Regions from separate parts of the Homo sapiens genome. Here region 2 is linked to region 1. The links come from fine-mapping of genetic effects on gene expression. Tissue or cell type: aorta. Region 1 holds a variant in brackets; the other region holds the start of a gene. All regions are shown on one strand. Distances are from middle to middle.

Region 1 (8,110 bases):
TTCTTTTTCTCTAATATAATCATTTAAAGCCTTAAATGTCCCTCTAAGCATTGTTTTAGCTATATCTTACAAATTTGACATTGTATGTTTTTCTTTTATTCAATTCAAAATACTTCATACTATCTTTGTGAATCTCCCTTGACTTGTGATTATTTAGAAGTATACTGATTAATGTTAGAGTATTTGGGAATTTTCTAGATACCTTTCTGCTGTTAATTTAAAATTAAATTTTATCACATATAGAATATAATTTCTATTATGTGCAGAACATAATTTGTACAGTTTCAGTCTTTTAACTTTCTTAAAACATGTTTTACAGAACAGTACAGGGTCCATCTTGGTGGGTGGACCGTCTGCAATTGAGAAGAATGTATATTCTTCTGTTGCTGAATAGAAAATTCCACAAATATCAATTAACTTACATCGATCAAACCTTCTTTACTTTTATTGATTTTTAACATTGACTTGTTCTGCCAATTACTGAGAGAGAATTGTTGAATCTCCACAAATAACTGTGTATTTTTAATGGTGTTTTCAGTACAGTCACCTTTTGCTTCATGCATTTTGAAGTTCTATTATTAGGGGCATACACAATTAGGGATACATAGATACATGCTGAAAATATATATGAATTTTATATTTTTTAACTAACCTATATGTGCCTTGATATTTGAAACATGTATCTTGTGGCCAGCATATAATTGGGTCTTGCAATTTTATCCAGCATGGAAATCTCTTCCTTTTAATTGCAGCCTTTATTCCATTTTCCTTCATCTAATTTACAGATATCATTGAGATTAAAGCTATTACTTTGTTATTTGTTGTGTATTTATACCTCTGCTATTTTTCCTCTTTCCCTCTCTTTTTGACATCTTGATAGCTTTTTATATTCCATTTTATTTTCTCTGATTCACTATAACAATCACTTTGTTTCATTTTTAGCTGTTGTTCTAGGGTTTTAGGATTTGTCCATCTTTAACTTGTCACATTGACTTCAAATAATGTTATACAACTTCACATGTAATATATTAAAAGTTACATATAATTACATCTCCTATTTGTGCTTTTGTTTTTATACATGTTATACATGTTACAAACTTCACAATACACTCTATTATTTTTGTTTTAAAGAGTCATTTTTTATAAAGATTAAAAATAAAAAAATGACTCAATGTTATTTTTAGTAACATATTCACCAATCACAACACTATTACTTTCAGTAAATCCAAGTTTCCATCTGGAATCATTGTCCTTACACCTGAAGAGTTCTATTTATTGTTGTCTGAAGTAAAAGTCTGCTAGTGACAACTTCTGCATTTGTTTGTTTTAAAAATCTTCTTTTGGTCTTTATTTTTGAAGTACATTTTTGCAGAGTATGGAACTCTAGATCGATATTTTTTTTCTTTTAACAGTTTGAAGATGTTATTTTTTAAAAAAATTCTTTAGTTTTAGGGCTACAGGTAGTTTTTGGTTACATGGATGAGTTCTTTAGGGTAAATTCTGTGATTTTAGTGCACCCATCAAACACGCAGTGTATGCTGTATCCAATATGTCGTCTTTTATCCCTCACTCTCCCCAATTCTCCCACTGAGTCCCCAACGTCCATTATATTGCTCTGTATGTTTTTGCATCCTCATAAGGTAGCTACCGATTGTAAGGAGAACATACAGTATTTGGATTTCCATTCCTGAGTTACTTCACTTAGAATAATGGCTTCCAGTTCCATCCAAGTTTCTGCCAAATACATTATTTTGTTCCTTTTTATGGCCGAATAGTATTCTATGGTATAAATATACCACATTTTTTTATCCACCCATTGGTCAATGGGCACTTAGGTTAGTTCCGTACCTTTGCAATTGCAAATTGTGTTGCTATAAACATGCATGTGCATGTGTCTTTTACATATAATGACTTCTTTTCCTTTGTGTTGATACCCAGTAATGGAATTGCTGGATGAAATGGTAGATTTACTTTTAGTCCCTTGAGGAATCTCCATACTGCTTTCCATAGTGATTGTACTAATTTACATTCCTACCAGCAGTGTGAAAATGTTCCCTATTTACCACATCCATACCAATATCTATTGTTTATTGACTCTTTAGTTATGGCCATTCTTGCAGGAGTAAGGTGGTATCTCATTATGGTTTAATTTGCATTTCCCTGATAATTAGTGAGGTTGAGCATTTTTTCATATGTTTGTTGGCTGTTTGTATATTTTCTTTTGAGAAACGTCTATTCGTGCCCTTTGCCCACTTTTTGATAGGATTGTTTTTGTTTTTTCTTGCTGATTTGTTTGAGTCCCTTGTAGATGCTAGATACTAGTCCTTTGTCAGATGTCAGATGCACAGCTTGTGAATATTTTCTCCCACTCTGTGGTTGTCTGTTTACTCTGCTGACTATCTGCTGTGCAGAAGCTTTTTAGTTTAATTAGATACTACTTATTTTTGTTTTTCTTGCATTTGCTTTTGGGGTCTTAGTCATGAAGTCTTTCCCTAAGCCAATGTCCAGAAGAGTTTTTCCAATGTTATCTTCTAGGATGTTTATGGTTTCAGGTCTCAGATTTAAGTCTTTGATGCATCTTGAGTTTATTTTTTCATAAGATGAGAGATGAGGATAGAGTTTCATTCTCCCACATGTGGCTTGCCAACTATCCCTGCACCATTTGTTGAATAGTGTGTCCTTTCCCACTTATATTTTTGTATGCTTTGTTGAAGATCAGTTGGCTGTAAGTATTTGGCTTTATTTCTGGGTTCTCTACTCTGTTCCATTGGTCTATGTGCCTACTTTTATACTAGTACCATGCTGTTTGGGTACCTATAGCCTGGTAATATAATTTAAAGTTCAGTAATGTGATGCTTCAAGGTTTGTTCTTTTTGGTTAGTATTTCTTTGGCTATATGTACTCTTTTTCTGGTCCCATATGAATTTTAAGATTGTTTTTTCTAGTTTTGTGAAGAATGATGGTAGTATTTTGATGGGAATTGCATTGAATCTGCAGATTGCTTTGGCCAGTATGGTTATTTTCACAATATTGATTCTTCCCATCCATAAGCATGGTATGTGTTTTCTTTTGTGTCATGTGTGATTTCTCTTAGCAGTGTTCCATGGTTTTCTGAAGATGTTATTTAATTATTTTCTGTCATAGGTTATCTTTTTCCTTCTCTAAATAATTTGCATTTTATATTCTGACTTGTGTAAGAGATTTTCATTCATTGCTAGTATTTAATAATTTGATTATGATGTGCTTATAGCTTTTTCTGTTTTTGCTTTTGAGAATTGGTGGGGTTGTTTTTTTGTCTGTTTGCTGTTTAGCTCAACTGAAATTCATTGAGCTTCTACAAAGTGAGTATATGTTGTATTTACCAATTTTGGAATAATTTAGGCTAGAATTTCTTTAACCTTTTTCTGGTCCCTCATTTTCTTTCCAGGACTCCAGTGATACATACATTGGACTGTTTCATATCATTACAAGTAATTGAGACACTGAGGCAGTATAAAAAGTTAAGGAGACACTGTTCATATTTTCTTGGTCTTTTCTGTCCCCATAAGAAAGTCAGTTTAGAAAAATTTGAGATCCATGTCTTCAAGTTTATCTATCTTATCTTCTACAGTGTCTTGCCTAGTGTATCTTTAACTTCATATAGTGCCTAAGTTAAATAAAAATCTAGATGTTCTATTTGGTCCTTTTATATATCTTTAATTCCTCTCATCATTATTATTTTCATGTTTTTCTTTAAACAGTCAAGCATATTTATCATAGTTGTTTACAAAGTCCTGTTTATTAATTCTATTATTGTTATCATCTTGGGATCTGTTTCTATTCACTAAATTTTCTCCCGTTTATGGGTCATGTTTTTCCATGTTCTCAATAGTAATTCTTGATTGAATGTTAGATATTGTGTATTTTACTTTTTCTATCACTCTTTAAGGAAAGTTGGATTTTAATCCGCTAATGTATGTTATTTCTGGATCAGCTTGGTTCTCTTAAGGCTTGTTTTAAGTTCTGCTAACAAGTCTAGAGTAGCTATTATTCTAAGGCTAGTTTAGACATGAGTTAATGATCCATATTTAGATATTTACTATGGCAGCACCTCACTTCCAGGTTGTTATTTATTGCAGCATAACAAATTATCCCAGAACATAGAAGCTTAAAAACGCAGAGATATTTATTATCTGACAATGTCTGTGGGAAAGGAACCTGGGCACAAATTTCCCCGGCTCTCTGTTTCTCCTAAGGCTGTAATCCAACTGTCATCAGAGCTCTAGCCATTTCAAAGATTGAAGGTGAGAGGATCCTCTTTCCAGATGACTCCAGTGGTTCATCACAAGATTTAGTTGCTTATGAGTTGTTGTTGGCTGGAGATCTCCCTCAGTGTCTTGCCACATGGTTCTCTTCATAATGCAGCTCACAATA[C/T]GGCAGCTAGATTCCATCAGAACAAGTCAGCAAGAGAGAAGGCAAGTAAAATGTAAACCAGCATTGTTTTGTTTTCTAATATAATCTCAAAAGTAACATCTCATCACATTTGCTGTATTCTATTCTCTACAAACAAGTTCTATGTCCCACTAGCACTTGATGGGAAAATATTACAAAAGTTCATGAATATTAAGAGGTCTGAATCATTGGAAGCATCTCAGAAACTGCTTACAACACTTAACAACAGTTACTAAGGAGTAACTGTCATTAGGTATCTACAGGATACCCTTGATGTTCAGATGAAGACTTGGCAGTCTGAGTGGTCAGACTTCAACATTACCCAGTGAGCTCTGGGAATTGTTTGGTACACAACTCCTACATTATTTTTTTGCCTGACCTCATGGAGTTAATCCCCACATAAATTTTGCTTAATATTTAGCAACAGCCTCAAGGAGATCCTTATATGGATTTCTGGAGCTCTGCAGAGCTCCCTTCTCTCTGACATTAAATCCTCTAAACTGTAGCCAGATCTGCCTCCCCCTGCTCTGCTCTGTTTTTCATTAGTGAGACCCTTATGTTCTGTTTTGTATTCCCATCCCACACTGTGTTCTAGAGAGTGCCTCCAGGCAGAGAGCAAGGGCAATTGTAGGCCTCTCCTCATTTGTTTCCCTTATCTCACAGGTCATAGTTCACACTGACTGTTGTCCCACTTTTGGACACAGATGTGTTATCTATTATGCTTAGTTTTCTAGATATTTATGGGCAGATGGCAAGTCTAGTCCCAATTACTGAAACACGACCACAGCAGAAACTCATCCAGGGATTCTGAGCCAGCTTTATTCTTCTTCAGCTGCTCTATATAGTATATTGGAATACCTTTTCTTAAATACAAATGATAGCCCTATATAAACAAATAATAAAATAAGGCTTAAACAAGTAATAAAATAAGGCTTAGAAGTGGAAATGAAACTAAATTAATGAAGTATAATTACCCTCCCAAAGTGATTTTTATAGCATTTCTTAATATAACTAGGTAGTGTTAAAATATACTTTTTATTTACAAAAAAACTTTTAGGAGTATGCATTCTATTTTAAAACAGAATATGTGTCCATCCCACTATAATTTATTTAAAATTCTTATTAACAAAAAAGTTTAGGGCTCCAAATTATTACTGTTGTCTATCTTTGTACACTTTAAAATCCTAACGATGTCTTCTGCAGGGGTTTGTCCCCATGTGTCACTTTATGGTAGTAGTATTTTCAAAGGTTACAAATGAAAAGTTCATCAGATTAATAATAGCTGATGCTGTACTCTGCTAAACTTCCCAATATTATCTTTTTACTGTTATACATTTATCACATGGTTATCTATAATGTTTGAGACATTTGAAGCTAATTAAGCAAAATTTCCCTTTGCATTTATTTGTTACTTGCTGTTGTGTCTAAGAGAACACTCATAGCCCTCTTTCCTCTGCTCCCTCTTGAGGCTGCAAGAAGAACACAGGCCTGCTTGTTCTGAGTTTCTGTGAAGTGAACAGACATTGCAGACACTCACCTGGTTATTCTAGTTTCTACACTGCTGATGGCACAGAGCAAATATTCCTCCTAGGTACATGTTTGATGTGTAGACAAATTCAGCCTTAATACCTATGCAGGAAGAGGATAGTGACTACAGAGAAACCCTGACAGAAGAATGAAAATTGCACATTCACTCTTTCATCCCCTTACCCTCACTCAGGCTAAGCCTAGGCAAAAAGTTCTAAAAAGTACAAAGGTAATCGGACCCACCAAGCTGTACTCATGAAGGCCTCACAATATATATTTCACATAGTTTTACTGGAAAGATCTGATATTAGGTACTTATAGTAATTTTAACATTGTTTTGTGTTCCTTTTAAATAATGGGTAAAGGAAAGGAAGATAAGTACTAGGAATAAAATTATACTGTACGTGCTTCTCAAATGATATTTGTATCGGACAAATGGTATCTGTGCTGGACATTGTCAGTAGCCCAATATAACCACCTTTTTTGTTGTTGTTCACATGGCTCCTTCTCTCTGCTGCCTCTGTGTTTTCTCACCCATATTATATGCAGGTGGGAGTTTTCTAAAATGTAGCTTTTTGGCGAGAAAGCTAATTTTCAGTTTGGATCTAAGCTGAAAATAGTTCCCCAATTGCCCTGAAGTTATCACTGTCAGGTTATTTCTAATGTAGTATTTTTCAGCATGCTCCTGGGCTAGCACTCCTGAAGGCTTAACTGCATAGTCTGTTTTTACTCATTGTCTAGAAGGCTAATGGAGTCTGTTGGTATAATCTTCAAGAAAAGTCAGAGTATCCAATTAGTAAAGGTGAAAAGCTTAGCAAAGTTTTCTCACTGATTAAAAATAAGTACTATGTTCGGAAACTTGTTTTTGTTAATAAATTATTATTCAGTTATTAATAAAGATAATACCTCTAGTAAATTAGTTGAGTTCAACCAGTAAAGCTATAATGCTAAATAGAACCTGTGCATCTGTGTTCTCATTGTGACTTGCAAATGGAAATGTTTGCATATTTTACATATTTCAACCTTTTAGTATTCCAAAATGGAATATTAAAAAAATCTGCTGCACAGAATTGGGCAACTGTGTTTGACAGTGAGTAGCTAATCCTGCCTACTCTGAGAGTTATTGAATTCTCTGCTCAATGCGGTGGGAGCACACAGCTGCTTCTGTTGTTTCTCTTTCCACAGCACAGCAATGAATTTAAACATGACAGTGGCATTTGAATATTAAAGCATATCCATTCCTCTCCTGACTAAAATTGAAGCACTAGCAAATATGTAATGCCGCCTGACTTAATCAATTTTAATTTAATTAACATATCATTATTCAAACTGGAAATTATTTGTTTTCAAAGATAGAGTCGAATCATCCTTTATAAATCATTTTTAAATAAAATTTGGACTAACAATTTCTAGTTCTACATAGAAACCTGGGATAGTAGAACTTAAATAAGCTTTTTGGTTTAGATAATTTGAAAAACAAACATCAACAAAATATTGTTGCCCAATGAATACTGCTAAATTTCCAAATTTATCTGGAAGTTTTAAGAATATATCAATAGCCCAAATGAAAAATAAAATTACCTTTGGAAATATCATAATGGAAATCTAAAGAGGCTAATTTCCCCATGAAGAATTTCTTACTCATCTTGTTATTTCAGTCAGAATGTTAGCAAGAAAAAGATAGAATAAAAGTTTATAAAAATTCATTTTTGCATCAGTTTGGTAAATAATGAAAAAATAATATTTATTTTTCTCAAAGTAAGTATTAGTAGGTGGCATTAAAATATATTATAAACTGTTTCTTTTTAATAGAATAGGAGATCTCTATATTGTGCTGGTATAGTGACACTCATATAATAATTTAATCTGCTTCCAAATGTATTCAGATATTTGCTGGTAGTTCTCTATGCAACATAATGGGCAATTTTAATGATTTGTTTTAACCTGAGTTAACCAGTGTTTTTGTTTGGGGCTCTACTATAAGAATCCTTGTGTTCAAAATATGAAGAAGCCATCAAAAAGTAATGCCTAACTAATTTATGCTATTGTGAGGCAGTGATTATTCTAGCTCATACATTCTAGAATAAACATCTACAAATGATCCTGGACTGCCTTGTTCCTATCACCCCCTATTTATAGTTTCCATGTTGCA
Region 2 (8,106 bases), 580 kb before region 1:
ATAGCCCTGAGTAATTACAGTCCTCATGTTTCCTTCTTTGTTTCTTTTGCTCTGTATCAGCCAATAGAATCTTACGTTTGAAACATGGGTTTCTTCTGCGAGAACTGCTATCCTTTGCCATCTTCTGCTGAAAGTAGGAGGACACTCATTTTTTACAAATTCTGCATTGCATATTAGTCTTTTAGATGTCCTACATTTTTACAGTCCCAGGAAGGCAGGGAGTGAACTCCACTTTGGTCAAACTACTTCAGTAGGAACTGCAGCACTGACATTTATAACTTAATTTTGATAATAAAGTCAGCTAAAAGTTTGCTCTGCCAGTGATTTAAAAACTGTTAACCAACCACCTAACTAAACTAACAAATGATACGATGGATCACATTTTTTATTTCTTTTATTTTTTATTGTAACTTACAATTCTTGCAGCGGAAGCAATGAAGTTTTACATAATTGCCAAAATTGAACAGCAGAGGGCAGAAAATAGCAAACTCTGTTTCTTGTAGCACACTATTCTAGTCAACTGTAGATCTAGTAGTTTTGAAGTTTTCAAAATTGATTGGTGATCAATTTGAAATACATATTCTTGAAATAGGAAGTTGCTACATGAAAAAATAGAGCCGTGTACATTCACAAAATAAATTCCAGTATTTTTCCATGTATTTGTATAAAGAACCATTTACTGTAGTCAATTTAAATTTATTACCCTTATATTGACAGGATTCTGTGCTTGAAACATACATGCTATTAAAACATTATAAGAAATTTGAAAAAGTCTCATGAGTGATAATATTAATAAAATTATGCTGATATAGGAAATAAGTTTCCAAATATGTGAAAGGTCTATACATAACTACCTTGTGAACATAGATACATAGAATAGCAGTTGAATTACAAGTAATGCTTGCTAAAATTTTTATTTCCACCTTATATATAAATTGTAATTGGCCACTAGACAGTAATATTTTTCTTGAGCTCTTACATATTAGTTACTATACTCTATGATTCAGCAAATTCTTATTTTTACAGCATTTGTTTTTTATAGAATGTAACTCAGTCAATTTTGAGTTCATATCTGCCCTTGACTTTGAAATAGGTTAAGATGAAAATAGTTTGAAAACATTCTTATTTTTTAAAATTCAATTCACCTGAACTCACATTTTAAACATCAAATTTTTTTCATATTGAAGCTTCCTCTCTCTCTGTCCTCGCTCTCTTTAATTCTAAGTTACTTTCTATGAAATTAAAGTTTTCCTGTGGAAACAAGTGAATCGAGAAAAAAATAACTACAGAGGTATTTTAAATTTTGCTCTGTTCTTAGTGCTTTTACATTAAAAATTTTAAATAGGTAATAATTTCCAATCATTTTGTATACCTTACATCACAAATAATGATTAAATATGTATGATTTATTTATTCTTTATGTTGCAATTTTGAATATATGTAAGTTATATCTCATTTTTTATTTTTTATCGATTTATTGTAATTTTAATTAATTTTATATATTATTTTTATTATTCAATTTTTTAAAGGTTAAATACATTTTTATTTAGAAGACCTGCTTTATATACAGTGTGGAGTACTTATAACATACTAATAAAATTCTAAGGCATAAAATTAAGAGATATTTTAGTCTATAGTTTATAAGCTTAATAATAGATTACAGCTATTCTCACTTCATGGTTTAGGACTACATCAAAAAGAGGGAAAGGTTATAATTTGAAATGACAGCAATATAGGATCCAAGAGCCATAGAAGCCACTTTGCTCATCATCATTTTTAAAATGGGGAAATTGAGGCCAATGTGATTAAGAAGCAAGCATAAGATAATCCAGTCAGCAATGAAGCTGCAAGCACAAGAAGGCAGCCTGATAGACTCATGGCATTTTGGAATACTAGCAGTTCTCTTTTTAGTACTGTAAGCTCCAATCTCCCTCTTCCTGGAAACAGTTCCTTGTTCTCAATCTTTCTTTATTTGTTTAAACCAGTAAAGACATGCAACTTGGTGGGGCTTTTCTGAGTCCGCAGAGGGAATTGTCAGAGCAGGTTTCCAGGAATGAGCTTGGAAAAAGCACCATGAAGAACATAAATTTCACACGGGAAGTCCAGTCATCCATCTCGCCATCAATTCTCTCCCTTCAAACTTTTAATATCTAACCTCATCTTTCTTTCCCTGTGGCCCGCGTGTTCAGTAGAGCGTGGTGGCTTACTTTCTTTAGGCAGTGATTTTTCGAAACCCCCGGCCAAAACGCGATGGGGAAACAGATTTCTAAGTAAGTCTCTGGGAAAGAATCTGCATCTCTGTGGCATTCCTACACTAGCTTCATCTTCTAATCACTTTCCTCTAATAGCCTTTCCTTAAACCAGAGTCTCTTGCTTTCAATCTGCATAAAGCAAGGGCTTCTAGGAAACCAAGTCTACATGACTCTACAAGGGAGGGATTGCAGTGAAAGCTGCGAGAAAGACCCGTGCGCTCTGTAACTAGGCGAGTCAGCATCACAGCCCAATGGAATATACTCTAAAGATGGGATTTTCATGCAAAATATTTAAAAGATTCCATCTTGATCTCTTGTGCGGCTTAAGCATTTAAAGATATAACTTGGGGTTCTCCCTGGATCCTGGCTACATCCCATGAAGCCCAAGTGCACAATTTTGGAATATTTCCTCCACGGTGCTTTGCTTGCTTGTTTGCTTTCGGCTGGGTCAGGTGAGGAGGATGACAGGGCTTCTGTATTGCTAAATGGGTTTTCACAGGAGATGGAAGATAAAAATCAAAATTATTTGTAACGTAAGACAGCAGGGCCTGGTGAGAGGACGCTTCGCCGCCAACAATTAGCAATTCGGCTTCTACACAGCAGCCGGAGATCAGCTTTGCTGCATTTGGTCCAGGTTGGAGCATCTCCGCAGCAGCTGCAACAGCCGCACGAAGGTAGCTCCGGGCGGGGAGCGAGGCGCTGTCCTCGGTGCTGAAAGGCCGAGGCGCGCGGTGGGCGCGACAGCCCCGGAGACCCGAGGTCTCGCGGAGGGACAGCGGCTACGGGCCCCGAGCTGTGCTTTCTCAGCGCCGCGCACGCGACGCGTCCACGGTGGTGCGGGGTGCCGGGCGCCGTGCGGGGGAGGGGGCGCGCGCTCCCGCCTCCTGCCGCGAGTCGCGCACGCGCGCCCGGGACTGCCTGCCCCTCTCTGTGACTTGCCTGTGTGTGTGCGTGTGTGTATGTGTGTGTGTGTGTGTGTGTGCGCGCGCGCGTGAGTGAGAGAGGAGAGAGGGAGAAGAGAGCGCGAGAGAGGGTGAGTGTGTGTGAGTGCATGGGAGGGTGCTGAATATTCCGAGACACTGGGACCACAGCGGCAGCTCCGCTGAAAACTGCATTCAGCCAGTCCTCCGGACTTCTGGAGCGGGGACAGGGCGCAGGGCATCAGCAGCCACCAGCAGGACCTGGGAAATAGGGATTCTTCTGCCTCCACTTCAGGTTTTAGCAGCTTGGTGCTAAATTGCTGTCTCAAAATGCAGAGGATCTAATTTGCAGAGGAAAACAGCCAAAGAAGGAAGAGGAGGAAAAGGAAAAAAAAAGGGGTATATTGTGGATGCTCTACTTTTCTTGGAAATGCAAAAGATTATGCATATTTCTGTCCTCCTTTCTCCTGTTTTATGGGGACTGATTTTTGGTGTCTCTTCTAACAGCATACAGATAGGTAGGTACCCTTTGTGCTATGCTTTTGAATTGTGCATAATTTGGTGGTAATCTTTGTTCACAGTGTACAAATTAATTCATGTCATGTAGACTTATGTCATACCTTGACTGCATTCCAGATTTAAACTACCTAGAATATACATGTTTTTCTTAGGATGAAGCAAAAGGAAAAGACTATGCCTTTGATACAATAGAAGAAAAGGTCCTCTCATTTCGGATCCCCAAATTTTATTAATTCTGCCTTAGCGACATTTTCCAGTTTGCTCAGATTTTCTTGGGGTCTGAATGCAAAGCTTGTGATTACATGGAAAGGTGAAGGTTTCTGGCCGCCTACCTCGCCTTCAGACTCTCATCTGGGTCTTGACCCCTTGGCTAGCTTTTGGATATTCCACCCCCGCTGTCCGAGTCCGTAGGTGTGTTTATTCGGCCTATTCGCGTGAATAAGAGACTCTTGGATTTTTGGGCGCTAGCGCGCGCCCCTCCTTTCCCTCCCGGGGCACTGACACTGTTCTCTTGCTTGCTGTTTGTTCTTTGCAGGGGGGCTATTTCCTAGGGGCGCCGATCAAGAATACAGTGCATTTCGAGTAGGGATGGTTCAGTTTTCCACTTCGGAGTTCAGACTGACACCCCACATCGACAATTTGGAGGTGGCAAACAGCTTCGCAGTCACTAATGCTTGTAAGTAATGAATATTCATGCCTTTCGGGTGCTGCACGCGGAAGGCCAGCGAGTGTGAGTGTGTGTGTGCGTTTCTGGGGTGGTGTGTGTGCGTTTCTGTGTGTCAGTGTGTGGGTGTGAGTGACTGCACACACGCGTGCGTGTGACCGTGTAGAGAGAAGGTGGCTGTAATCTCAGGGACCCCCGCTGGCTGGAGAGGGCTGAAGAGAGAGGGAAAGGACGTCAAGAGTGTGCGCATTAGGGAGCCGGGGTGAGGGTTGGAGCCAGGGAGGGCGGCTTTCTTGGGTTCAAGGGGTTTTCGCTCATCTTGAGTGCTTCAGGAGAAGCCCTCCCACCTCGCTCCCCATCGAGCGCCTGTTGGCACCCTGCCCACAGAGAACACGTTGTTCCCCAGGGCGCGCAGTCGGGCTGTTGGACAAATCCCACGAGGGACTGCCGGAGCCCAGTGGCCTCCTGCCCCAGCAGCTGCCGCTCTCGCCCGCTGCCCCCAGTTTAGATCCGCAGCACCGGCTGGGCTCACCCTGCGGCCCTCGCGAGCTCCATGTTCTCCTCTTTGGGACAAGTTGTTGAAATGGTTCCGGAGTTGGGATCGGGGCTGTTACATAACGCCCACCCGAGGGGCGAGGAGCGGGGCTGACGCAGGCTCAGGCCGGCCGGGTGGCGTGGGGGTGGGGCGGGGAGGCGGTGGAAAGGGGGAGCGCTGTCAATTTCTCCTGCTCAGTTGCGCTTCCGCTTAAGTTGGAGGGGGCGAGGCCGCCAGGGGCGCCGCGGTCAGCTTGCCAGCCCGGCGCGCTTTGTTCTCAGGTAGCTGGGCTCCAGCAGAGGCAGCCGGGGAAAAGGACTGGGAAGCCGTGGGATCTGGCCGAGTTTGAAAATCTGGAGAAGTCGCTGATCAGCCATTTTAGTCTTTGCAATGCTCCATATTAACCCTCTCACTCCGCGCAGTGCTCCGGGACTCGCTGGGAAGCTCTGTGATGGGTTCAGATAAAGTACTAGAAACCAAACAATTAGGGATCTAAAAGGATTGGTGTGGAGGCCAGAGGGCTCCGGTCCCCGCGCTCGCTCCCCCGCGCAGGCGTGGGCAGGCAGTCGCGGCCACTGTGCCTTCCTGCCCTCTTCCCAGCAGCTGCCATCATTTCCTGCCGACTGCCCTGCGGTGATTCTTTCCTGCCCTAATATTCGCAGTCGTTATTTCATAGATAACAATTTGGGGGAGATCTGCGGATGGCTCACTTCCCACTTTGGCTACAGAGCTTGGGGAAAATTACCACAGGAAAAGCCCAACTGCAGTTTTCCCACGTCACACAAACAACTGGTTGCCATCCCTCCTCCCCATTTTAAGCTTTAGTCATATATTCCGTGATTTAGCTTGATTATCATATTGGGCCCATCATCAACTCTTGCAACTACTGTCACCCGGACGAATGAAGAAACAATTTTCTTAGACTGATAGAATAGGGGCATTGTGTGGTAATTTAGGATTTAATTGTTTATAATGGATCTATTTAAGAAGGTTTCACTGCTATATATTTTCTTCAAATGTTGGTGCCAAGTAAGAAAAGAAAGAAGGGCGGGTGTGGGGGTACAGAACGAAAGAGAGAAGAGGAGAATTAAAGTGGATTTGCAGCTTTGAAAAACGTCCGTAATAGAATATCTCAGAAAATTTTAGTACATGACATACAAAGAAATCAACTTAATTAAAATTTGAAGACTTCTATATTTGACCTATTTACCTAACAGATTTAGACTATTCATTTGATATCAGTAAGTTCCAATTTTTCCTGAATTACAAGTTTGTCATGCAACTGTTCTGAGTATCTAACTGTGTGTAATTGTATACTTATGTGAAAATGCTTTGAAAAGTAATGACTCCTAAGGAACGGCTGTGGGTATAGGAAGGACATAGGTTTTGAATGTGAAGTGAAAGTATTGACAGCTGTACTTTTTGAAAACAGTCAATGATTGCCAAGTTCACTCATTGGTGAAAATAATGAGAAGAACTTTCTGCAAAAATAACATATGTCCATTGACAAAATGAATATTCCTTGATTTCAACAAATGCTAAACTACTGTATTGGGGCTTTATAAAGATAAAAGACTGTGATTAGGTTATTAGGTTTAGATACTCATTCTCAATATTTTTGAATTTTTAAATAGAAATTTTTCTGAAATAAAATATATAGCCAGAATATGTGTATATATTAAACACATATGTAAATTCATATATTTGCAGGGTGAACACATTCATGTAATCAACATGTGGACTTCTTTTAAAAAATTACCACACAATTTAATTTGTCCATAGTTCTGAGAAGCTGGAATAATCAAGTCTTCATTTGCACAGTTTTTTCCCCTCCTCAGGAAGTGAAGCTAAAATAAATATGTTCACATTTCCAGAGACTAAAATTACCCCTGCATGGATTATTATAGTAGGATAGTAAAACAAATTATTTTCAGGAACTGAACACATTTTAAAGATGACAACATGATAATTCAAAAGCATGACATTTGCAACTCCCATGTTATAAGTAATCTTACTGTTTGCTAAAAAGAACTAGGGGGGTACTGTGACAGAAGAGAGGCTCATTGGATAGAAATTTCTGGGGCTGACATTAACTCATTGACTGGGCAAATCGCTTAACATGTTTGTGACTCCGTTTTTTTATTCTCTGAGACATTTCAAAATTTAGAGATTGCAAAATGAAATAGAGAATTTGTATCCTTTTTTGTTTGTTTGTTTTTGTGCTATGGACAATAGAAGATGTAAAATTAGTTTAACTCTTTTGAGACAGAATGAGAGAGAGGGAAAGGGAAAGATGCTTATGTAAACTACAATCACAAAGTCAAGAAATGGATGAAAATCTCTAGTGTTAAATTTGTCAGCATGGGTCTTGATCGTTTAAATCCTGCTTAAGATTTTTCTCCAATGCCTATCCTTTGTTTTCTTGCCTTTTTATTCAGGGAAGTCTGTGATTCTTTCCTTTATAAAGTGGAAGCAACAGCATTAAATACATTGACAGCTAAGATCTAAACATCTTTTTTCCCATTTCCTCTAGAAATCTCAGGAATTTTGCTATCTAATGACATTATTAGATGATAGGTATCATCTTGCAATGCTCTTGAAATAGCTTGCTCTTCCAATCATAAAAATCCCACAGAGCTAAATTTACGTATTAAAAAGTGGATTTTTATACCTTAGTAATACAACTTCAAAAGGGAAAATTTATTAGTTTACTAATTTAATTTTATTCCTGAGATGGAGGAAATTATTTGGAAATGTTGAAGTGGACGTTGATATGAGGATCCAGGGAGATCCACTGAATGGGTTAAGGTTATACAAAGAAAATGAAGTCATTCTATTCTGAACTGGGTAAAATGATTGTGTGCATCTTACTGAGCTCCCACATCCTTCCCTTTCACAATCACAGTGGGATAATGAAAGTACCTATTTTGTTCCATTTGTTTCCATGGGTACCTGAGGCAGTAAGACAGATTTTCAGTTTCTTTCATTTTTTCTCCATCATTCCCTTTTTCTTTTCCTCTCTCCCCTCACTCATTTTTTCCTTTCCTCCCTCCCTGTCTTCTTAGCTGAAAAGAGAACTAAGATTTTTTTTCCTGAAGGTTGTTCAAACGTAAGCCTTCATTATTAAAAATACAAAGCATAAAAGCAGAAAAAAATCTGAGATTAGTATCTGATGTGTAGAACAGTTGAAACCAGGGATGGGTCCTAGGAATCCAA

The links. PIP is the estimated chance that this variant, and not a neighbour inherited with it, causes the effect.
Region 2: it holds the start of GRIA2, and the variant in region 1 is fine-mapped to the expression of GRIA2 in aorta (GTEx, PIP 0.97).

Annotation. Positions count from the first base shown.
Region 1 is chr4:157,799,283-157,807,392 of GRCh38, forward strand. It overlaps LOC105377509 (a long non-coding RNA gene), which reads right to left. Exons shown (of 6, transcript XR_007058347.1): 5 at 5,969-6,060; 6 at 4,148-4,419. Among named protein-coding and RNA genes, the nearest start is that of LINC02433, 230 kb to the left of the region's middle. RefSeq lists a silencer at 5,815-6,109. The variant C/T (reference allele first, on the strand shown) is at 4,414.
Region 2 is chr4:157,217,441-157,225,546 of GRCh38, forward strand. It overlaps GRIA2 (glutamate ionotropic receptor AMPA type subunit 2), which reads left to right and starts at 3,288. Exons shown (of 16, transcript NM_001083619.3): 1 at 3,288-3,690; 2 at 4,227-4,367. The coding sequence starts at 3,603.